7 linked regions of the Homo sapiens genome follow. The gene in region 4 interacts genetically with the main gene of each other region. Each region holds a gene or a part of one and is shown on either strand. Other genes may lie near its edges.

Region 1 (3,500 bases), on a different chromosome or scaffold from region 4:
ACAGCTCTCTTCGCCATACATACTTCTGTATTATATAACTTTGTATTAGTTTTCTTTCGCACCATAACAAATTAACAGAAACTTAATGACTTAATACCGATTTATGTATTTTACTTTTATTTTTTATTTTATTTTTCTGAAACGGAGTTTCGCTCTTGTTGCCCAGGCTGGAGTGCAACGGTGCGATCTCGGCTCACTGCAACCTCTACCTCCCGGGCTCAAGCGATTCTCCTGCCTCAGCCTCCCGAGTAGCTAGGATTATAGGCATGCACCACCACACCCAGCTAATTTTGTATTTTTAGTAGAGATGGGGTTTCTCCATGTTGGTCAGACTGGTCTTGAAGTCCCGGCCTCAGGTGATCTGCCTGCCTCGGCCTCCCAAAGTGCTGGGATTACAGGCGTGAGCCACAGCACCCGGCCTAACAATACCAATTTATTAGCTCACGGTTTTGTAGGTTAGAAGTCCAGTGCTGTGTGCTTGGTCCTTGTATTAGTCCATTGTCACACTGCTGTAAAGAAATGCCTGAGAGTGGGTGATTTATAAAGAAAAGAGGTTTAATTGGCTCACAGTTCTGCAGGCTCTAGAGGAAGCGTGGCTGAGGAGACCTCAGGAAACTTGCAATGGTGGCAGAAAGCAAAGGAGAAGCAGGCACATCATGGCCAGAGCAGGAGAAAGAGAGGGGGGAGGTTGGTATACACTTTTAAACAACCAGATCTCTTGAATACTCTTACCACAAGAATAGTGCCAAAGGGGGAAGTCTGCCCCCATGATCCAGTCACCTCCCACCATGCTCCTCCTCCAACATTGGAGTTTACAATTTGACATGCAGTTTGGGTGGGGCCACAAATCCAAACAAGGCAGAAATCATGGTGTCAATAGAAATAGAACTGAGTTCTCATCTGGAGGTTCTGAAAGAAAAGCCACTTCCAAGCCCATTCTTATTGTGGGTAAAGTTCATTTCCCTGCAGTTAGATGACTGAGGCCCCCATCCCCCTGCCAGTTGTCAGCTGGGAGCCTCTCTTGGCTCCTAGAGGCCACCTGCATTCCTTGTCACATGGCCCCCTCCATCTCCAAGATAGCAACAGCACATCAGATCCTTCTTGTGCTTCAGATCTCTGACTTCCTCCGTCTCCGACCTCTACACCTAGATTTAAGAGACTCATACGGTTGGGTGAGCCCAGCCAGGTAGTGTATATTAAGGTAAACTGATTTGCGGCCTTACATCTGCAAAATCCCTTTTGACATACAAGGTAGGATGATCATGGGGGTGATACTTGATCCTAGCCATAGGTTCTGCCCGTAGTCAAGGGGAGGAGACTCTGCAAGGGCAAGGGTCACTGGGGGTCATCTTAGAATTCTGCCCATCCCAGGCCTCAACCATGAACTCTTTGAAAATGATTTCTCAAATCTACTCTGATTTATTATACTTCCCATTGTTTTTCTGCTAAAACACCTTCCCCTTCCATGTGTCCCCAGTCCCGTCATTGCCTCTGGGCCAGCTGTCCATCAGCATTGTCTTTCTTCCACCTAAGCTCTGAGCCTCCAACATCTCCAACTTCTTTTTTACATTATTCTGTTTTGCTGTTAGCAAAATAGAAGGCTTTGCTGTCTTCTGAATCTGTCCTGGATTTCACTGATAATTGCCCTAGTTCAGGGCCCCATTTCATCATGCCTGTTTGACATTTGTCTCCTAACTGATTTCTCTACCTCCACCCAACTTCTATATTTGATTTATCTCCGCCAGTCAATTGTCCAATACACGCTTCATCAGCAGTGCAGATTGGGAGAAGAATTCTAACATGCCCCAGCAAGCTGTATGCAGTAGTATGCACCTATAGTCCTAGCTACTCAGGAGCCTGAGGTGGGAGAATCGCTTGGGTTCATGAGTTCAAATCCTGAACTCACCAGCTTGGGCAACATAGTGAGACCCCATCTCCAAAAAATGTGCCACAGCAAACTCACAGGAGTGCTGCAGGATATTTTAAATTTTTTAGGGAAACACAGAGACATCTTGTCAGAATACTAATACATGGTTTGACCCTAACTAAATAAAAGGAATTCTTGGCCGGGCACGGTGGCTCACGCCTGTAATCCCAGCACTTTGGGAGGCCGGGGCGAGTGGATCACCTGAGGTCAGGAGTTCGAGACCAGCCTGGCCAACATGATGAAACCCCGTATCTACCAAAAATACAAAAATTGGCTGGACATGGTGGCGGGCACCTGTAATCCCAACTACTAGGGAGGCTGAGGTAGGAGAATCACTTGAACCCGGGAGGCGGAGGTTGCAGTGAGCCAAGATCGTGCCACTGCACTCCACCCTGGGCAACAAGAGCAAAACTCCGTCTCAAAAAAAAAAAGAAAAAAAATTTAAAAGAAATTCTTGAGTATTTCTTTTGCCCTGTGTTTGCCATGAACCAAGAAAGTTTGGGAACCTCTGTCATGTGACCTTTGACCAGTCATTTCACTCTGGGTCCAACTTCCCACGTCTACAAATGATATGGGTAGAAAAGAGGATCTCTCTGGGGTCCTTTTCTACTGTGTGTGCATTTATGTAAAATGTCAGACTCAGCTTTGCACCCACTGCAGGCTTCCACCCCCATCTAAGGCCAACTCTGCCTGTCTTTCCTATCCCACCATGCCTCTCAGATCAAGACCTCCTGGCTACACCTGCACTTGAGCCAATATTCTCCACTTGGCTCACTGTTACACGTCCTCTGTGAAGCCCTTCCTTACCACGCAACACATAGTAAACACTTGGCTCTGCTGTTTATATGACACTTCTAAAGTGTGTGTGTGTGTGTGTGTGTCCGTGTGTGTCCATCCATCATTCCCTGTCTAGGCGAGCTTTTAGAAGAGAGGAATTGTAAGTCGTTGAGTGACTGCTGTGCGGCAGGCTGTGCAAGGGAAGGGACTATGTCTTTGTCTCTTAAATGGTAAGATTTAGTGCGTACCTACCCACTTTCTAAGCAAGCAGACTAGGGAGTTCCTTCTCTGCCAGAGGAGGTCCCAGCACCTTGGGCATTTGGAGCTTGCTTCTGTTTCTCTAACGGGGCTCTCCTGCAGCACTGTAATGGCGTTGACTGGCGTCAGAAGCTGGACTCTCAGCGAGGGGCTGTCATTGCCACGGAGCTGAAGAACAACAGCTACAAGTTGGCCCGGTGGACCTGCTGTGCTTTGCTGGCTGGATCTGAGTACCTCAAGCTTGGGTGAGATTCCTGTGCAGGAGCTGGCAGCTGATCTTGTGAAAGGAAGGGTCTGGGTAGGGAGGTTGACCCTCCCCTCCCCGTGTACTGGACAATTGACTGGCAGAGATAAATCCAGGGGTGGGGTAGAGATGGAGGGGTCAGTTAGGAGACAAATGCCAAACAGCAGGCATGCTGAATGGAGTCCTGAACTAGGGCAATGGTGTCAATGAAATCCAGAACTGAGAACTCAGAAGACGATGTTTTCCCTTTCCCTTGAAAATAGCAGTGGACTGCCGGGCGCGGTGGCTCATGCC
Region 2 (3,500 bases), on a different chromosome or scaffold from region 4:
GTCTACTGTAACAAACAGGAAAGTTAAAATAGGCAATCATGATGCTGTACATTAAGAGTTACAACACATGCAAATGCAAAATGCTATGGGAGGACATAAGCATAGCACCTAACCCAGGGCTTACGTAAGTTTTAGGCTGGTCAGAGAAAGCTTCTTAGGAGAATTAAAATCCTAAGAATAAAAACCAAGATAGACAAAGTGAACTGCATGTGCAAAGGCCTGAAGCTGACAGAAAGTATTACATTCCTGTTTGGTATAGCAGCAGCCCAGAAGCAAGAAGCTAGAAGTAGAGTTAGAAAGGTAGGCCGGGCGCAGTGGCTCATGCCTTTAATCCCAGCACTTTGGGAGGCCAACTGAAGTCAGGAGTTTGAGACCAGCCTGGCCAACGTGGTGAAACCCCATCTCTACTAAAATACAAAAATTAGCCAGGCATGGTGGCAGGCACCTGTAATCCCAGCTACTCAGGAGGCTGAGGCAGGAGAATCCCTTGGAGGCAGGAGAATCCCTTGTACCCAGGAGGCAGAGGTTGCAGTGAGCCAAGATTGCACCAATGCACTCCAGCCTGGGTGACAGGGCGAGACTCTCTCTCAAAAAAAAGAAAGGTATACAGGGTTGGACAAAGCTAATATACTAAAACTTTATTCTAAGGACAATGATAAGGAACTAATGCGTCTTAAACATTGGACTGGCACAATCAGTCCCACGTTTAAAGTGTAATTCTGATTTTCCCAGCCCCATGTTTAAGACTGTTTAGTTCCTTACCATTGGGTACAGTGTGGAGAATAAGCTGGAGAAGGGGACACAGTGGGAGGATGGCAGCACTCTAGACCACTAACGTGGAAAACAGGATGCTAAAGTTATCTGGTGACTGGATGCAGTAGTGAAGACACTGAGTTCAAGACCAGCCTGGACAACAAAGCAAATAATTCAGAATTTGTCATCTCCTTAACGTCCATTTATTAGTTTATTAAAAATTAAAAAATAAAACAAATTTTTTTGAATTCAAGACCAGCCTTGAACCTCATAGAGTGAGACTCCATCTCAAAAAATAAAAAATAAGCCAGGTACGGTAGCTTACACCTGTAATCCCAACACTCTGGGAGGCCAAGGTGGGAGGATCACTTGAACTGAAGAATTTGGGACTAGCCTGGACAACATAGCAAGACCTCCTCACTACTAACAATAAAAAAATTAGCTGGGCAGGCATGGTACTACATCCCTGTAGTCCCAGCTACTCAGGAAGCTGAGGCAAGAGGATGACTTGAACCCAGAAGTTTGAGGTTGCATTGAGCTATGATCACACCACCTCACTCCAGCGTGGGCAAGAAAGTGAGACCCCATCTCAAAAAAATTAATTAAAGTAAAATAAAAAATAAAGAAGATTCAAAAATCACTAAGACCCAGTGGTTAATAAGGCATGTAGAATAACAACACTGTGCTTGATAAAAAGCATGTACTCAAAAAATGGTACCTGCTACTATTATTATTGTTATTGGGCATTGGATTAGATGACCTTTGAAATCACATTCATCCTTAAGAGTCTACGTTACCTTGAAGATGTATCTTGTTCTCAGAAAAGTCCTTTCCCACGATTACCAAGCTATCTTATACAAAATGATTCATTTTTTTATTCATAGACTACACCAGAACTGCTCAACTGGGCTCCACTACACACCAGTCATAGCATGAAACGTTTATTAGGTGTTCTCACAAACAGCGGTCCATGACCAAGTAAGTCTGAGTAACACCGCGTAATGTATCTTCCCTCTTGAAGGGTCATAGGCAAATAAGCACCAAGGCTCTGAATAATAATTCTGCAGTAAAGAAAGGCATTTCACTTTGGCCATTTTTTGTCAAGGATCCTCTTTTTATCCCCAAAGGACACTGATTAGCACTACACAGAACTAATGTTCAGTGGAAGAGCTTGGGAAATGCTACTCTAAACCAACTTACAAATTTTAGTGGAGTGAAAAGACTATAGGCAACTGTATTCTGATAACCTTCCAAAATGGTTAGAGTTTTACACACATTATGGCGTTTTCCTTTCTAACTTAGTACTACTGAAAATGACATTAAATACCACCATAAATAGCAATCCTTTGCCTCCTAAGTGATTGCCAACCAAGCATTCTTGGCTTCTTAAAAGGCCCCAACTTCGTCATTTCATAATGAGCAAATTCTATGCTACTTACTTTCAGGGTACAGTAATAATTTTTAAAACAGTTTAAAATGACAAGGATGTCAACTGTGCAGATAATGTGTACTTTATTAGCCCCTTCTCTCTTCTCTTTTAAAAGGAACAGATCATGCCAGTGTCAAAGGGATATATCTTCTTAACACTGGGCAAAGAATCTCAACTTCATAGAGATTACTGGACAGTTTACAGCTCTGGAGGCCAAGGGCAACAGTAATTTGGGATTGTGAAAACCTTCAGTACTTCAGATTTAAGCCAATGACATGATACAAAATATTCTATACTCTAACATCATTTCCTATGAGTCATCTCATTCCTTTTTTGGTTTTGTTTTGTTTTTTTTTGGAGACAGTCTCACCCTGTCGTCAAGGCTGGAGTGCAATAGAGGCGCGATCTCGGCTCACTGCAACCTCTGCCTCCCGGATTCAAGCGATTCTCCTGCCTCAGCCTCCCGAGTAGCTGGGGTTACAGAGGCCCACCACCACGCCCAGCTAATTTTTTGTATCTTTAGTAGAGATGGGATTTCACCATGTTGGCCAGGCTGGTCTTAAACTCCTGACCTCATGATCTGCCCGCCTCAGCCTCCCAAAGTGCTGGGATTACAGGTGTGAGCCACGGCGCCCGGCCCATCTCATTCCTCTTATTAAAACACTTTGAAACACTGCTCAAGATCACTATTTATGGTTCATACTCATGAATGTATTTAAGAATAGGACAATTATTGAATCTTATTAAGAATATACAATTGACTTTAACACTTGAACCCGGGAGGCAAAGGATATACTATTGGCTTTAAATGAAGGGTATTCAGGCTGGGCGCAGTGGAGGCTGAGGCAGGCAGATCACCTGAGGTCAGCAGTTCGTGACCAGCCTGGCCAACAAGATGAGACCCTGTCTCTACAAAATATACAAAAATTAGCCAGGTGTGGTGGCACGCACCTGTAGTCCCAAGCTACTCAGGAGGCTGAGGCAGGAGAATCGTCTGAACCCAAAAGGCAGAGGTTGCAGTGAGCCGAGGTCATGTCACTGCACTCCAGCCTGGGCGACAGAGCAAGACTCCAGCAAATAAATAAATGAATGAATGGCATTCATTTAAATAGGACACCTTATATATAGTACCTTGAACGTGAATTTTTTTTTTTTTTTCAAAGAGGGAATCCCGTTCTGTCACCCAGGCTGGAGTGCAGGGGCATGATCTCAGCTCACTGCAGCCTCCGCCTCTGGGTTCGAGCGATTCTCCTGCCTCAGCCTCCTGAGTAGCTGGGACTACAGGTGCCTGCCACCATGCCTGGCTAATTTTTGTATT
Region 3 (3,500 bases), on a different chromosome or scaffold from region 4:
CTACTACCCTAGACCCCAGTGTAGCCCAACACACAACGTGTGAGAGCAACATTTGTTGAATAAATTATTAAACTAATTAAAAAACAAAACAACGCCGGGCACAGTGACTCATGCCTGTAATCTCAGCACTTTGGGAAGCCGAGGCAGGTAGATCACTTTACCTCAGGAGTTCAAGACCAGCCTCGGCAACATGACAAAACCCCATCTCTACAGAAAATACAATAATTAGCTGGATGTGGTGGCGTGCGCCTATTGTCCCATCTACTTGGGAGGCTGAGGTAGGAGGATGGCTTGAGCCCAGGAGGCAGAAGTTGCAGTGAGCCAAGATCGTGCCACTGCACTCCAGCCTGGGTCACAGAGCCAGACCCTATCTCCAAACAAATAAATCATAAAACAACCAATGAGGTAGAAAGAGTGCTAGACAGAATAGGCTGGGAAAAAACAAAAGGAAAACACAAGACAGTAGGACAGAGGACAGCTGAACAGAAACATTTGAGCCAGTTTAAGTAGAGGCAAGATAGGGATAAACTGTCACAAGAAGCCTGAGTCTAAGGAAAGCCTTCCCCGAAAATCAGAAGAGTAGACAGAAAGAGGGAAGACCATCACTGAGTGTGGAAAGAAAATTCTACATGTGAAATATAGGCAGAAAAAGAATTACAGAAGAATACAGAAAAAGATCTTTTTTTTTTTTTTTTGAGATGGAGTTTCGCTCTTGTTGCCCAGGCTGGAGTGCAATGGCGCGATCTCGGCTCACTGCAACCTCCACCTCCCGGGTTCAAGTGATTCTCCTGCCTCGGCCTCCCGAGTAGCTGGGATTACAGGCATGTGCCACCATGCCCGGCTAATTTTGTATTTTGAGTAGAGGCAGAGTTTCTCCATGTTGGTCAGACTGGTCTCGAACTCCTGACCTCAGGTGATTCGCCCACCTCGGCCTCCCAAAGTGCTGGGATTAACAGGCGTGAGCCACCACGCTCGGCCAGAAAAAGATCTTTAAGAGACTACAAAAGTAGCCACAAAAGAAGAGGCTGAATTGGTAGAAAACCTCAACAGAAAGTTCCAGGGAAAGGAGAAGAACAATACAAAGATGATACTAAACATCCGGTTAGCAATAGACTATGAATGTAAAGGATAAAGAAAAAAACTGAGCTTTGCAGATGCTTTAGGAGAATAAACAACAACAACAGTAGAATAAACTAGGTATAAGAGTAGGACAAATGGTTAAGATTGCCAAGAGAAATGAAATGGAGAAAAAAAACAAGATGGGAGAGTGCTAGAGATTTTCCACATCATTTGTGGACCATCATACTTCCCCCCTTGAATATATAAAAGCTGTTATAAGAGAGCCTCTTTACACCCATTAGAACAAAGGAGGGAAAAAAAAAGCATTTCACTATGGCTGGGGACTGTAGATGGCACAGTTCAGGTGTGGTTCAATATTCACAATAACCACAGCTAATGTGATCAAAATGTTATCAATTTTATACACAAAAATTAAATATTCATAAATTATAGTAAATTTATAGTAAATTCATCCTAGGTTGACTTCCTTATGCTTCCCAGATGTTACTGAGCTTACCAGTGTGTATTTTTAAAAACCTATTTTACATTTAGCCTGAGAATAACACAATTCACAGCCAGTTTTAAGAAAAAGATTTCTTTAAAACATTTTTGGATTATACTTATTTTCTTTGTACTTAAAATTAAAGCATCTCAATCAACTAGAATTATAATAGTTCTTTCTGAGCTGACTGGTTCCTCATTTATCAATTTCCTTAGTTAACAGTAAAAACAGGAAAGAATTCCTCACTTGCAGCAATTGGCCAGGATGGAGAGAACCCAGGAAAGGAGATGTATGGCAGTAAACAGTTTCCCCATATTTACAATCTGGTGCTCCAGGATCTTTTCCAGGTTTCTATAAGGAACACAGAAGACCCAGTTATTTAGAATATATCAATAATCCTACACAATATGACCATAGCACTTTACTAATACAGGTTGAGTATCCCTCATCCAAAATGCTTGTGACCAGAAGTGTTTCGGATTTTGGAATAGTTGCATTATACTTACCAGTTGGGCATCCCAAATCTGGAAATCCAAAATGCTCCAATGAGCATTTGAGTATCATCATAGTGCTCAAAAAGTTTAGGATTGGCCGGGCATGGTGGCTCATACCTGTATCTCAGCACTTTGGAAGGCCAAGACGGGCAGATCACGAGGTTAAGAGATCGAGACCATCCTGGCCAACATGATGAAACCCTGTCTCTACTAAAAATACAAAAATTAGCTGGGTGTGGTGGCACACGCCTGTAGTCCAGCTACTCAGGAGGCTGAGGCAGAAGAATTGCCCAAACCCAGGAGGTGGAGGTTGCAGTGAGTGGAGATCATGCCACTGCACTCCAGCCTGGCAAAAGAGCAAGATTCAGTCTCAAAAAAAAAAAAAAAGTTTTGGATTTTGATTTCGAATTTTGAGATTTGAGATGCTCAACATGTTATAACTACAAAAAAAGGTACCACTCCTTTCTCCCAAGAAATTTATGGTATATGTTCACAGATTACCAGTAGATCTCTAACTACAGCTACGTTAATAATAAAAAATTTGTATGTAAGTTTGCAGTTTGTCTCACTACAGCTATGTTAATAACAAAAAGTTTGTACATAAAAGTTTATGGAAGCATAAGCAGAATTATGTATGGGAAAAAAATTTTCTGAGCAGAGACTCACCCGTTTATAATAGTTCTTTATCTTGGTTGCCATGCCAACCTGCATCATTAAGGGTCCATTTTCCTCACTATATTCTGCAAGAATAAGATCACCATCTTTGCCTGTGAGGTCCTGAGGTGTGCGCATAAAAAACATCTCTCCACCACCTGAAGCTTGCCTCTCTTGTTCTCTCATCTGTCCAGAACAAAGAAAATACCATCTAGCTCCTGACAGGACACTACTACACACAATGACGTTGTTCAATCTGAGACAAACACACCAAAAACATTTTACCTATTTTCCAATTTCATAATCAAAATTTTCAAACATACTGTAAAGTTCAAAGAATAGTACAGTCGGCCCTCCATATCCATGTATGGGTTCTGCATCCGTGATTTCAACCAACCATAGATAGAAAATATTCAGAAAATACAAGTGCATCTGTGCTGAACAGGTACAGACTTTTCTTGTCATTATTCCCTAACCAATAACAGTGTTAACAACTATTCACATAGCATTTACATTGGAGTAGGTATTATAAGTAATCTAGAGGTGATTTAAACTATAGGAGAGGATGTGCATAGGTTATGTGCAAATATTATGCTATTTTATCAGAAACTGGAACATCTAAAGATTTTGGTATCCAGAGAAGGTCCTAGAACCAATCTCCCAGAGATAACGAAGGACGACTGTACTATGAACACTTATTATCCCACGTCGCTGTTTATATTTCGCCATTTTTTTAAACTTTTATCTTTCTATAGACTTTGCTGGACAGTTTTTGAAAGATGCAGTCATTC
Region 4 (3,500 bases):
AGTGACATGATCTCAACTCACTGCAACCTCCGCCTCTGAGGTTCAAGCAATTCTCCCTGCCTCAGCCTCCCAAGTAGCTGGGATTACAGGCACCTGCCACCACGCCGAGCTAAATTTTTATATTTTTAGTAGAGAAGTGGTTTTGCCATGTTGGCCATGCTGGTCTTGAACTCCTGACCTCAGGTTAAAATCTATAAAATTTTGTTCCAAAATTAAGATGTCACAAAAAGATGGATTTTTTTATAATGTGCCAGTTCAAGAAATAAGCTTAATGAAACAATCCTACATTAAACAGTATTTACATTTAGAGCTAAAATTCAAATCTATCTAAAAGTTTTACACTAGCAGTCTAGAGGATAAACTCAGCTCTTGAATGCTGTTTTTAAAAATTCTAAGGATTTAATATGAAAACCCACTTAAAAAAATACTATTTGATTATTAGGGGCCCAGATTCTCACCTGAAAACAACCAGCTGGAAGAGTCTAGTCTTCTGTTAAGACACAGAGAAGGTAACATATGTCAAAGTTTTGCATGAGACAATCTGGGTTTGTATCTGGTGAATGAGTTTGTATCTGGTGAATCAGTATTACTACCTGAACAAAGAGCATGCTGGCTCTTAAAAAAAAAAAAAAACAAACTCATGATACCTAACGTATTAAGCAAGTACTTTATCTTTATCTGCCAGATTCTGGCATGCACACACATCTGCAACCCCTGCATAACACTGATCTTAAACTTGAAAAAACCCAAGGCTCAGTTTAATACACTAAGGCACAGGAACATCAAACTAGTTTTAGTATACCGTATATAATACTTTGGGAAAGAGGAGGAAAGCTAAAGGGGACAATCCTACTCAACTCCAGAAGATTAACTTCCTTGACAGTTGCAAGCACTGTGTTGTCAGATCTTCCACATTTTCAAGAGGACTCTGAAACCCAGATTTTTATTTGGAATTGCATGACTCTTCAGTGCTGCCTCAATTAAAAATGAAACAGCTGGCTGATAGATTCCACAGTTGGCTGCTAGATTCCTCCGTGAAAGTATAATCACGTGTGAATGTTTTGTATTAATATTATACACAAACTAATAGCAAAATGAGTTTTGAGGTAAAGGTACAGATTCCCAGGATACAGGAAGTAAACAAGGATATAAAAAGAGTAACAGGTCGGGCATGGTGGTTCACACTTGTAATCCCAGCATTTTGGGAGGCCAAAGCAGGCATATAGCTTGAGCTCAGGAGCTTGAAATCTGCTTGGGCAACATGATGAAACCCCATCTCTACAAAAAACACAAAAATTAGTGGTGTGCACCGCACCTGTAGTCTCAGCTACTTAGGAAGCTGAAGTGGGAGAATCACCAGAGTCTGGGAGGTCGCGGCTGCAGTGAGCCCTGATCGCACTACTGCACTTCAGCCTGGGCAACAGAGTAAGACCCTGTCTCCCCGCCAACAACAAAAAAAATCATTATTTTTAAGGCCTGTTCAAAAACTGACAAGATGTTAGAAATAACAAAGCTAGCTGTTTGTTGCTTGGCTGGGGGATTTTTGTTTTAGGTAAACATGGGAACTTAAAATTTACCATAATCTTTACATTCTTGGCCAGGAAGGTCACAAACTTTAACTCTAGGGATATCAGGGTAGAAAATTAACCTTTATCTGGGACAGTCATTTTTTACTGCAGAAGCTTCTGGGTCAGAAGACAGTGCTATTTATTAACATGTGAGGTTCCAGCATCAGACTAAGATTTAGTATTTAAGGAAAGTTAAATACTAAATATACTACACATTTTGTTTTCTAACACAAGGTACCAAAATAAATTATATTTTAATTCATTTAATATAATTTTAGTGGGACTTGGCAATGGAGCAAGATTACTAGAACCTCCCCCTTCTATTGTCTTGTAATGTACGTTGTACATTTAGACCAGTTTCTCAGTTTTTGTCATTGAAAATCGTCATTCCTCCAAATGAAGTTTAAAAACTTGGATTTCCCATCCAAAACCGCTCTTATAAAAACATACAATTTAAGTGCAAAGATATCATTTTAAATTTTCTACCTTACTTATACTATAGGTAAAATAAATATATTGGAGTATCAATATGTACTCTATGCCTTACAGAGCCCAAACTAAAGTGAACCAAGACAGGCAATTTTATCCTAAGAAATTACTATAGTGAGGGCCATAGTATATACACATAGTATATACAAATGTTGTGGCACAGTCATCATTTTGATGTTCAGATACACAAATATTTCCCATTGTGTTACTACTGCCTACAGTAGCACGCCCAACAGATCTGTTGCCTAGGGACAATAGACTATACCATACAGCCTAGATATGTAGTAGGTTATGCCACCTAAGTTTGTGTAAACACACTATGATAACACAACAAAACCGCCTAACAATGCCCATCTTCATTGTTAAATGACACGACTGTGTTTGTGTGCACGTGACTGTGTGCATGTGTGTGCACATGACTGTGTGTGTACATATATATATATATATATATATACACACACACCTGCATGTAACCGTCTGTATAACGGCTGGGCACGGTGGCTCACACCTGTAATTCCAGCACTTTGGGAGGCTAAGGCAGGCAGACTGCTTAAGCCCGGGAGTTCAAGACAATCCTGGGCAACATAGGAAGACCTCGTCTCTACTAAAAATAAAAAATTAGCTGGGCATGGTGGCACACACCTGTAGTCCCAGCTACTAGGGAGCCCTTGGGAGGTTGGGGATGCAGTGAGCCGTGACTGCTCCACTGCACTCCAGCCTAGGCGACAGAAGCCGTCTGAAAACAACTGTGTGTATATATACAGTAGTCCCTCACTTATCCAAGGTTTTGCTTTTGAGGGTTTGTTACCCCCAGTCAACTGAGTCAATCACTGTCCAAAGATATAAAAATGGAGAATTCCAGAAATAATTCATAAGTTTTAAATTGTGCGCTAAGTAGTGTGATGAAATTACGCACTGTCCCACTCTGTCCTGCCTGGAAAATGAATCATCCCTTTGGTCAACAAATATTTGCATTGCATATGTTACCTGCCATTAGTCATTTAGTAACTGTCTCGGGTAGTAGATCAACTGTCCACATATGGCAGTGTCAGTGTTCAAAGTAACTCTTATTTTACTTAATAATAGCCCCAAAGCACAAGAGTAGTGATGATGGCATACTGTAATGACTGTTCTACTTTATTATTGTTGTGGTTGATCTCTTACAGTCCCTGACTTATAAATTAAACTTCATCATAGGTATATACATATAGAAAAAAACATAGTATAGATAGGATATAGTAATATCCATTGTTTCAGGTATCCACTGTGGATCTTAGAACGTATTTACCAGGAAAATAAGGCTGGTAGAGGTTGGGGGTCAGGGGAGAACTGTTGTATAACTTAAACTGAGAAACTCTTAGCTTTCGTTATCATACTGCACATGTCATTTAACCAGTCAGTCAATGAAGTCCAACCTGGTAAATACTCAAGGTACTGAAACAC
Region 5 (3,239 bases), on a different chromosome or scaffold from region 4:
ACGTTTTGTTTTTGAGAGAGTCTCGCTCTGTCGCCCAGGCTAGAGTGCAGTGGCGTGACCTCAGCTCACTGCAACCTCCGCCTCCCAGGTTCAAGCAATTCTCCTGCCTCAGCCTCCTGAGTAGCTGGGATTACAGACGCCCACCACCACGCCCAGGTAATTTTTCTATTTTTAGTAGAGACAGGGTTTCACCATGTTGGCCATGCTGGTCTCGAACTCCTGACTTCAAGTGATCCACCTATCTTGGCCTCCCAAAGTGCTGGGATTGATTACAAGCGTGAGCCACTGCGCCCAGCCAGATGTGTTTCTTCTTTCTTAGATAGAATTGTAAGTTTTACAACAGATAAGAGTACTAGAGCCAATGAAATATACAAAAGTTTCTTACAATGAAGCACAGGCTCTTGTCACAATAGTTTCTTACCCTGCAAATATTGACTTGAATCCAACTTTCATATAGTCCCCTGAGCTAATAAGAGAACAATCTGAAAAAAATATTTTAACATATAAGCATCTTAGAAATAACCTAGTATACATTTTTTTGCCAGGTGCGGAGGCTCATGCCTGTAATCCCAGCACTTTGGGAGGCCAAGGCGGGTGGATCACCTGAGGCCAGGAGCTCAAGTTCGAGAGCAGCCTGGCCAACATGGTGAAACCCCGTTTCTACTAAAAATCCAAAAATTAGCCAGGCGTTGTGGCACACATCTGTAGCCTATAATCCCAGCTACTCGAGAGGCTGAGACAAGAGAATCGCTTGACCTGGGAGGCGGAGGCTGCAGTGAGCCAAGACTGTGCCACTGTGCTCCAGCCTGGGTGACAGACTGAGACTCTGTCTCAAAAACAAAAAAACCTGAGGTCACATTGGTTTATCTGTCTCAGAGGTGACCTTTTTTCAACCTGATATTTTGATGTTAACTATTCTGTATCAATTATAGGTTCAGTATCCCTTACCCAAAATACATGGGACTAGAAGCGTTTTAGGTTTTTTCAAATTTTAGAATTTTTGCATATACGTAAGATATCTTGGGGTTGTGACCCAAGTTTAAATAAGAAACTCATTTATGTTTCAAACATACCTTATACACAGCTGGAATACAATTTTATACATCATTTTAAGTAATTGTGTGCATGAAAGGAAGTTTGGTGCACGCCTGTAATCCCAGCTACTCAGGAGGCTGAGGCAGGAGAATCGCTTATACCTGGGAGGCAGAGGTTGCAGTGAGCCGAGATCGCGCCACTGCACTCCAGCCTGGATGACAGAGCAAGACTCTGTCTCAAAAAAAAAAAAAAAAAAAGAGGTCAAGAACTTATGTGTGCAATTTTCCACCGGTGTCACGTCAGCTCTCAAAAGTTTCAGATTTTGTGGCATTTCAGATTTTGGACTTGCGATGCTCAGTCTATATTCTGATACACAGTACATACTTATGATGATATATACCAGAAAGAATTTTTTCCTTTCTAAAAATATTTTCAATATTGTCTTGCTCTTAATTAATTTGGGGGATTTATATCACACCTTTTATCAGTTCTGACAGTGTGAAACCTACACAAGCTTCCCACCTTCTAAGGACTGTCTTTCCAGACCAACAATTGGAGTGCCAAGTGTTGCTTTTTCATCACTAGTCAGAAGCTTGAGGACAGGGTGGGGTTCAGTACTTGTGTCAGCTTGACGAAGCTACAGTCCCCAGATATTCAACCAAACACTAACCTAGGTATTGCTGTGAGATATTTTATAGATGTGACTAAAGTCAACAACCAATTGACCTTAAATTCAGAGGTCTATCCTATATAATCTGGGGAGGCCTGATTCTATTAGTTGAAAGGCCCTAAGAGCAGCCTTTCCTTCCTGAGAACCTGCCCTACAGATTTGACAATTAAGGGCCTAGACAGCCCCCACAATCACGTAAACCAAATTCTTTGCAATAAAGCTTTTTTTTTTTTTTTTTTTTTTTTTTGAGATGGAGTCCCGCTCTGTCGCCCGGGCTGGAGTGCAGTGGCGCTGATCTCGGCTCACTGCAACCTCTGCCACCTGGGTTCAAGCAATTCTCCTGCCTCAGCCTCCCAAGTAGTTGGGATTACAGGCACCCGCCACCATGCCTGGCTAATTTTTGTATTTTTAGCAGAGACGGGGTTTCACCATGTTGGCCAGGCTGGTCTCCAACTCCTGACCTCATGACCCGCCCACCTCGGCCTCCCAAAGTGCTGGGATTACAGGCGTGAGCCACCACGCCCAGCAGAAATAAATCTCTTAACACATCTCTCCCAATTCTGTTTTTCTGGCTGAGCCCTGATTGACTTTGGTGAACACAGCCTGCCTCTACTGGGCTCCTCTGGACTTCCACTCCTGTTTCCATAACTTCTCTTGGGACTGCCTATTTAACCCCACAGTCTACTTCTCCAAATTGAGAATTTCCAGTATATGTTAACTAATTTTCCCTCATTACTATTTCTGGGAATGAGGGCAGGCCTTTGTGTTACCCCCATACCAATCATCCAGTCTTTCAGAATCTTTTCTTTGGCCACCATTTTGAGATGTAACTTAAAGTTGTTCCTTCTTTGTTTGGTTGCAATTTATGGACGGTATAGTTTAGGACAGGATTTTTTTGGTAATTTTTTTTCTTGATTCAGAGTGGAAGGTCTGTGGAACAACCTCACCCTGCCATTTTAACCCTAAAAATCACTCTATTCATCCGCTTTCCCTGATAAAAGGACTTACTACAGGGAGGAGCAGTACCGTCTTGACTTTATACCCTCAGGATCTAAGCACACACAGCACCTGGCAAATAGGAACTCTTGTTGGAAGAAACATACACTTTAATTTCTGAAGAGATTTTCATCAAGCCATTATTCAACAGTTCTTCCATATAAGCTAAATCAACCTTCCTAGAACACTTACCCTTGAGTGATGCTTAAGTACAGGTATCATACTACTACATAAATTTAACAAGCACCTCCAAATAAGACAAGTAAGGTCCCAATCTTCAAGGGATTAGCTCTAGTGTACAGGGCTTAAATAGTTTAAAATTATACATCTTTTGGGGAATATAAAATAGTGCAGCTGCTGTGAAAAAGTTTGGTGGTTCCTCAAAAATTAAACAAAGTTAACATATGACCCAGTAATCCCCTCCTAGGTACATACCCAAAAGAACTGAAAGCAGCGACACAAACACATTTGTATGCCAATGTTCACAGCAGCATTATTCACAATGGCAAAAAAGGTGAAACAACCCAAGTGTCCATCA
Region 6 (3,500 bases), on a different chromosome or scaffold from region 4:
TTTGGAGATGTTCGTTGGTGTGGGCCCTGCTAGAGTGAGTCTCATTCTGTTCGGATGGTACAGCTTCCTTGCACCCACCACTTCACCACAGATGGAGGCACTTGCTAGAGATGGCCCTTCCCCCTAGAGTGCTAGAGTGACCTCTCACCAGTCCCTGGCCTGAGCTCTCCTCCAGGCCTAAGACTTCAGCAAGGCCTGTGACTTCCACCCCACCTTCCCTCGCACCAGCTAGGACTGCAGTCTGCTACCTATAGTAGACCAATTTAAAGAATTGACGGCTGGGCGCGGTGGCTCATGCCTGTAATTCCAGCACTTTGGAAGGCTGAAGTGGGTGGAACGCTTGAAGTCAGGAGTTCGAGACCAGCCTGGCCAACATGGCGAAACCCTGTCTGTACTAAAAATAGAAAAATTAGCCAGGCGTGGTCGCGCATGCCTATAATCCCAGCTATTTCGGAGGCTGAGGCAGGAGAATCTCTTGAACCCAGGCGGCAGAAGTTGCAGTGAACCAAGATGACACCACTGCATTCCAGCCTGGGCAACAGAGTGAGACGCTGTCTCAAAAAAAAAAAAAAAATTTTGCTTTATTTGTGGATTTTTTTTTTTTTTGGTGACAACATTTATTGAGATATAATTGACATACCAAACAATTGATCCCTGTAAAGTATACAGTTCAGTAGCTTTTAGTAATTCACAGATTTGTGCAACCATCACCACAATCAGTTTTACAACATTTCCATTACATCAAGAAGAAATCGTGGCCGGGCGTGGTGGCTCACACTTGATATCCCAGCACTTTGGGAGGCCAAGGCAGGCGGATCAGGAGGTCTGGAGATCGAGACCATCCTGGCTAACATGGTGAAACACCATCTCTACTAAAAAAACAAAACCAAAATTAGCCATGCGTGGTGGCGGGCGCCTGTAGTCCCAGCTACTTGGGAGGCTGAGGCAGGAGAATGGCGTGAACCTGGGAGGCAGAGCTTGCAGTGAGCTGAGATCACGCCACTGCACTCCAGCTTGGGTGACAGAGTGAGACTCGTCTCAAAAAAAAAAAAAATATGTAAATCGGGAGTCCTAAGCAAACTACCCAAAGGAATTTCCTAGTACAGACATTCCATGTAAATGAAATTATACAATATGTGGTTTTTTTATGCCTGATTTCTTTCACTTAACATGTTTTTGAATGGTAACTCCATGTTTAACATTTTAAGGAACCACCAGACTGTTTTCCAAACTACTTGCCCATTTTCCATCCCTACCAGCAATGTGTAAGGGGTTCTGATGTTTCCCCGCCCTTACCAACACTTTGATGATAGCCACCTTAGTGGGTGTGATGTAGTATCTCGTGGTTTTGATTTGCATTTCCATGATGAGGAGTGATGTTGAACATCTTGTATATGCTTATTGGCCATTTGTATATTTGTATATCTTCCTTGGAGAGTTGTCTATTCAGATCCTTTGCTCATTTTTTAATTGGGTTTTTTTGGTTGTTGAATTGTAAGAGTTCTTTTTTTTTTTTTTTAATTTTTTTTGAGATGGAGTCTTGCTCTGTCGCCCAGGCTGGAGTGCAGCGGCATAACCTCTGCCTCCCGGGTTCAAGTGATTCTGCCTCAGCCTCCCTAGTAGCTGGGATTGCAGGCACCCACCACCATGCCCAGCTAATTTTTGTATTTTTAGTAGAGATGGGGTTTCACTATGTTGGCCAGGCTGGTATTGAACTCCTCACTTCAGGTGATGCACCCCCTGCCTTGCCCTCCTAAAGTGCTGGGATTACAGGCGTGAGCCACCTTGTCCGGCCTCACCTTCACATCTATTTCACACTTTGCTGTTGTTGTGCAGATAAGTCATAGAAAAATAGGGAATGAGGGGGAGTTGGGTGTTAATGATGATGGGCCATGAGATATAAAGTGGATGGGGGGAAATTGAAGACAGGAGAGGAGCTGTGGGGGGTGGTGGGGAAGGGTGGGCCTGGTGGGTTGCAGAGCTGAGAAGTGGTAAAGAGTTGGCGTGAGATACCTGAGTGTGTCTGTGGGTCCAGATGATAGGAGGGGGTGCTCAGAGAGTAGATGACTTGAAGATGGTGGTTTAAAAGGCAACCTTGGCAGTGCTGGTCTTGTCAGAGTGAAGTAAAAGGTGAATGAAGGGGTGGTCAGGGAACTGAGAGACCGAGAGCCACATGGATGGAAATCACTGAGGACATCATGCCTAGTGGCAGTCAGGCTGGGGGAGACCCATGGCACAGTGGGGTGGAGTGCCTGCCACAAGGCCTGAGCCTCAGCAAGCAGGGGCTTTTCCAGCAGTTATTTTGGCAGCAGCAGTGGGGTGTGAGGTGGACCCCAGCTCCAGTTAGCCTGTAGGGGAAGATGCAGACTCCTGCTTAAGGCTTGCTGGAATGGCTGAGTTCCTGTTCATGCCGGGATGGGATGGATGTACTATGAAGGTGTGGGTCTGTAGGTCACAGATCTGGAATTCAGAGGGGAGGCTGGAGAAGGATACCAGTTATTTTAGGGGATGTGTTCAGAGCAGTGTAGGAATGAACATCCAGAAATCCAGGCAGGAAGACCTGGACTTCTGTCCAGTGAAGTGGGGGGGGGGGGGTGGGAGTGGGCAGGTGGAGAGTTGTCTCTGATTCTCCTTGAAGGGGCAGGTGACTGATGGTGAGGTGCTGAGTGGCTCTTCCTCCTCTTCCTGACTGCAGGTTTGTCTGAGGGTATGTGCTATCAGGATGGTCTGTGGTGGGGTGGGTGGCAGACGAAGGCTGTCACCCCCTCTTTGGGGATGAGCTGATGGGCTTGGATGGTCTTTGGCTTCACTGTATATGTGTGATTGCATAGACTCCTTAGTAGCCTCAGCTTGTTAATAACTGTGTTAGGCATGAAATGTGAACTCTAGAGAAGTCTGAACTTTTCAACTGAATGTAAAGTTTACAGCTCTACTGTGTTGTCTTTGTTTAGGTATATATGTAATGTTAATTTGTTGATGTTACAAAAATAGCAGATATTATCAGTGTTTATTACATATACAGTAATTTATGGGATCTGAGAAAGATTTGCTCACCTTAAGTCGGTTACCCAGGTTACTCCTCATTTGCTGCTGCTTTGCTACTTGTAACTCTTTTAAAAAATGTACCTTACAGTGTGTATCACAAAAAGATTGTCTGCACATGGGACGGGAAGCTGAAGATTTATTTCATTTTTTTTTTTTTTTTTTTTTTTTGAGACAGAATTTCGCTCTTGTTGCCCAGGCAGGAGTGCAATGGCTCAGTCTCAGCTCACTGCAACCTCTGCCTCCCAGGTTCAAGCGATTCTCCTGCCTCAGCCTCCTGAGTAGCTGGGATCACAGGCACGCGCCACCATGCCTGCCTAATTTTGTATTTTTAGTAGAGATGGGGTTTCTCCATGTTGGTCAGGCTGGTCTCGAACTCCTGACCTCAGGTGATCCACCAGCCTCGGCCTCCCACAGTGCTGGGATTACAGGCATGAGCCACTGTGCCCGGCCGATTT
Region 7 (2,989 bases), on a different chromosome or scaffold from region 4:
CTGAACTCAAGTGATGTGCACACCTCAGCCTCCCAAAGTGCTGGGATTATAGGCATGAGTCACCACACCCAGCCTTAAGCCTTTGCTTTTTACTAAGAATATAACTAAGTTATGACATCAACTGAGAAGCAGAAATGTACTTATTAAAAATTTAACAACTTCCTATGATAAAGCTTAATTTAAAAAAAAAAACTAGGCTGGGCTCGGTGGCTCATGCCTGTAATCCCAACACTTTGGGAGGCCGAGGCGGGCAGATCACCTGAGGTCAGGAGTTCAAGATCAGCCTGATCAACATGGTGAAACCCCGTCTCTACTAAAAATACAAAAATTAGCCAGGCATGGTGACACGTGCCTGTAATCCCAGCTACTTGGGAGGCTGAGGCAGGAGAACTGCCTGAACCCGGGAGGCGGAGGTTGCAGTGAGCCAGATCACGCCATTGCACTCCAGCCAGGGCAACAAGAGCAAAACTCCATCTCAAAAAAAAAAAAAAAAAAATTAGAGAAACCACTTCCCTTTAATTTATAAATCCAATTCCAATTTATATTTAATGAAAAAGGTGGTATTAATCCAAAAACAACTGCTTCGATGTGTTACTTAACATTACTTGTAATTGTCTTGTTTGGCTTATCTTATTTAATTTACTTTGGTTTTATGCATCTATAATTAATTCTTCTGACATTTTCCAAATGAGTGGATTGCTGCTTATAGCTTAAAATTAACTCAAAATAATATCCCACTGCCACCTAACATACTCTAGAGCTGTCTACTTCCATATACCGGTCTTTTCAAGAAAAACAATCTTGGCCAGGTGCAGTGGCTCATGCCTGTAATCCCAGCACTTTGGGAGGCCAAGGCAGGTGGATCACCTGAGGTCAGGAGTTCAAGACCAGCCTGGCCAACATGGTGAAACTGCGTCTCTACTAAAAATACAAAAATCAGCCAGGCATGGTGATGGGTACCTGTAGTCCCAGCTACTTGGGAGGCTGGGGCAGGAGAACTGCTTGAACCTGGGAGGTGGAGGTTGCAGTGAGTCGAGATTGTGCCACTGCACTCTAGCCTGGGCAACAGAGCGAGACTCTATCTAATAAAAAGGAAAAAAAAATCTCATCCCAAACCACTTAAATTATAGAGACTGATTTTAGTAATCGGACACATTCATTCACCCTTCCAAAACATATTCATTAAGCCTCCTCCAGATGCTAGGCATCATTCTAGGTACAAGGAATATTGCACTGAAACAAAACAGAGGCCCTGCCCTAAGCAATTTATACTTTAGTGAGGAGAGACAGACAAGGAACACATAACAAGAGAAACATGGTTTGAAGATGAGAAAGACAAAGCAGAGCCATGGAAACAAGAAGGTCGGAGATGGGCAAGCAGGGCCTAACAGAAGCAGACATTTGAGTAGAGATCTGAAGTGAGTACAAGATCAGCCATGGGGATGCTGGGGAGAATGGAGGGGCTGGACAGTCCTAGGCAAAAGGAACAGCAAACTCAGAGGCCCAACTGTGAACTGCCTACCATGCTCAAGGAAGGAGCGGAGGTCAGAGAGGAAATGGGGGGCAGATCACTCAGGGCCCTGGCCACCCCTGCAAAGTTTGCCTTTGATTGCAGGTGAAAGAGGGAAACCACTGAGAGGCTGTAAGCAAGCAAGTGACACGACCTCCATCTTAACTCACTTGAAAGGCACCCACCAGGTCTACCAAGACTAAACTGCAGCCTACTGTAATAATCCAGAAGGAAGATGATAGTGGCTTGAGCCACGTGGTGGCCATGGAAGTCATAACAAGTGGTCCAATTCTGAATGTATTTTCAATAGAGCCAATAGGATATGTGAATGGGCTGATGTGAGGGGATGATTCCAAGGCACCTGATCTAGGCAGCTGGAAGGATGGAGCCGCCATCAACAGAGATGACCACCAAAGGAAGGGGTTGGTTGGAAGAAAGCCGGGAACTGGATTTGGGATATGTTAACTTTGCAGTGGCTACCAGACATCCAATAGGTGTCTAATGAAGATTTCAAGGAAGCAGTAGCATGTTCAAGTGTGGAGTTCAGAGGTTTGAGATACAAATTTGGAGCTGTCAGAATAGTGATGTTACTTAAAAATCCATGAAACTGGATGAAATTTCTGAGGAGTAGGTACAGACGATGCAGAGGAGAGGTTGAGAGAATGAATCCAGGGGGCAGCTGGGGGATGAGGAGGAACCAGCAGGGCAGGAGGGGGACCACGGACATCCTAGGAGCAAGGAGGGGAGGATCAAGTATGGGATGCTACCAAGGACTGGGATTCACGGTCATGTTCAACCCTGGGCCTTCATCCCCATGGGAAAGAAGGCTGAAGAAGTGAGTATCACAAGCGTTTTTGAGGAGTTTTACCATTAAGAGGGCAGAAACATGAAGTGGTGGCTAAAGAGGGAAGTGGGACCAAGACAGGGAGGCATGTTTCATGTCTGTGTGCTGCTGATGGGCACCACCTAATATGGGGAGGGGTGGTAGCACGAGAGAGATACTCATTGAATGAATGTCCTTGGGTAGGTGGGAGATGAGATCCCAGCCCAGGGAAGGGCTGACTGACTACGAGCTGCATGGTTCGTTTCCAGCAACAAGAGGCGTCAGGAAGGGGATATAGGGAGGATGCTGGATGTGGCTGGGAGGGCAGGGAAGGCAGAGGACAACCTGTGGAAGGTCCCTTATTCCTGATTCTACTCAGTAAAATGGTAAACATGGCCATCAAATGAAAGCAAAGGAAAGGTATGCATGGGAGGGAGGGAAGTGGGCAATGTAGAGGAGGGGCAGCCCCAGCTCCTGTCCATTCACAGCATGGGATGATCCACCAATGCCTCAGGCTCCCAAGGGCAGGGTGCCTGTGGCCAGCCATAGTGTTCAGCACTCACCATCTTCTGAGCAGACTTAACCACATGAATTTCCCAGAAAAACTTAACACTGACTTTCAATAATAAATAATAAATGAAATTCACTTCAATATA

The links.
Region 1: changes in YTHDC1 (region 4) and EIF3D together harm fitness less than expected from each alone (positive genetic interaction), as found in Homo sapiens cells (one large-scale study listed by BioGRID).
Region 2: changes in YTHDC1 (region 4) and NFYC together harm fitness less than expected from each alone (positive genetic interaction), as found in Homo sapiens cells (one large-scale study listed by BioGRID).
Region 3: changes in YTHDC1 (region 4) and TAF1 together harm fitness less than expected from each alone (positive genetic interaction), as found in Homo sapiens cells (one large-scale study listed by BioGRID).
Region 5: changes in YTHDC1 (region 4) and SAP18 together harm fitness more than expected from each alone (negative genetic interaction), as found in Homo sapiens cells (one large-scale study listed by BioGRID).
Region 6: changes in YTHDC1 (region 4) and AFG3L2 together harm fitness less than expected from each alone (positive genetic interaction), as found in Homo sapiens cells (one large-scale study listed by BioGRID).
Region 7: changes in YTHDC1 (region 4) and MCM3AP together harm fitness more than expected from each alone (negative genetic interaction), as found in Homo sapiens cells (one large-scale study listed by BioGRID).

Annotation. Positions count from the first base shown.
Region 1 is NC_000022.11:36,512,167-36,515,666, reverse strand, and holds part of EIF3D (eukaryotic translation initiation factor 3 subunit D), read left to right. Parts: intron 1-3,064; coding exon 3,065-3,207; intron 3,208-3,500. UniProt on the Homo sapiens protein: mRNA cap-binding component of the eukaryotic translation initiation factor 3 (eIF-3) complex, a complex required for several steps in the initiation of protein synthesis of a specialized repertoire of mRNAs.
Region 2 is NC_000001.11:40,698,204-40,701,703, reverse strand, and holds part of NFYC (nuclear transcription factor Y subunit gamma), read right to left. Parts: intron 1-3,500. UniProt on the Homo sapiens protein: Component of the sequence-specific heterotrimeric transcription factor (NF-Y) which specifically recognizes a 5'-CCAAT-3' box motif found in the promoters of its target genes.
Region 3 is NC_000023.11:71,383,357-71,386,856, reverse strand, and holds part of TAF1 (transcription initiation factor TFIID subunit 1), read right to left. Parts: intron 2,896-3,500; coding exon 2,722-2,895; intron 1,913-2,721; coding exon 1,808-1,912; intron 1-1,807. UniProt on the Homo sapiens protein: The TFIID basal transcription factor complex plays a major role in the initiation of RNA polymerase II (Pol II)-dependent transcription.
Region 4 is NC_000004.12:68,343,591-68,347,090, forward strand, and holds part of YTHDC1 (YTH domain-containing protein 1), read right to left. Parts: intron 1-3,500. UniProt on the Homo sapiens protein: Regulator of alternative splicing that specifically recognizes and binds N6-methyladenosine (m6A)-containing RNAs.
Region 5 is NC_000013.11:21,143,119-21,146,357, reverse strand, and holds part of SAP18 (histone deacetylase complex subunit SAP18), read right to left. Parts: intron 1,267-3,239; coding exon of another isoform or gene 1,074-1,266; intron 1-1,073. UniProt on the Homo sapiens protein: Component of the SIN3-repressing complex. Enhances the ability of SIN3-HDAC1-mediated transcriptional repression. When tethered to the promoter, it can direct the formation of a repressive complex to core histone proteins.
Region 6 is NC_000018.10:12,353,228-12,356,727, reverse strand, and holds part of AFG3L2 (mitochondrial inner membrane m-AAA protease component AFG3L2), read left to right. Parts: coding exon 1-34; intron 35-3,500. UniProt on the Homo sapiens protein: Catalytic component of the m-AAA protease, a protease that plays a key role in proteostasis of inner mitochondrial membrane proteins, and which is essential for axonal and neuron development.
Region 7 is NC_000021.9:46,237,623-46,240,611, forward strand, and holds part of MCM3AP (germinal-center associated nuclear protein), read right to left. Parts: intron 1-2,989.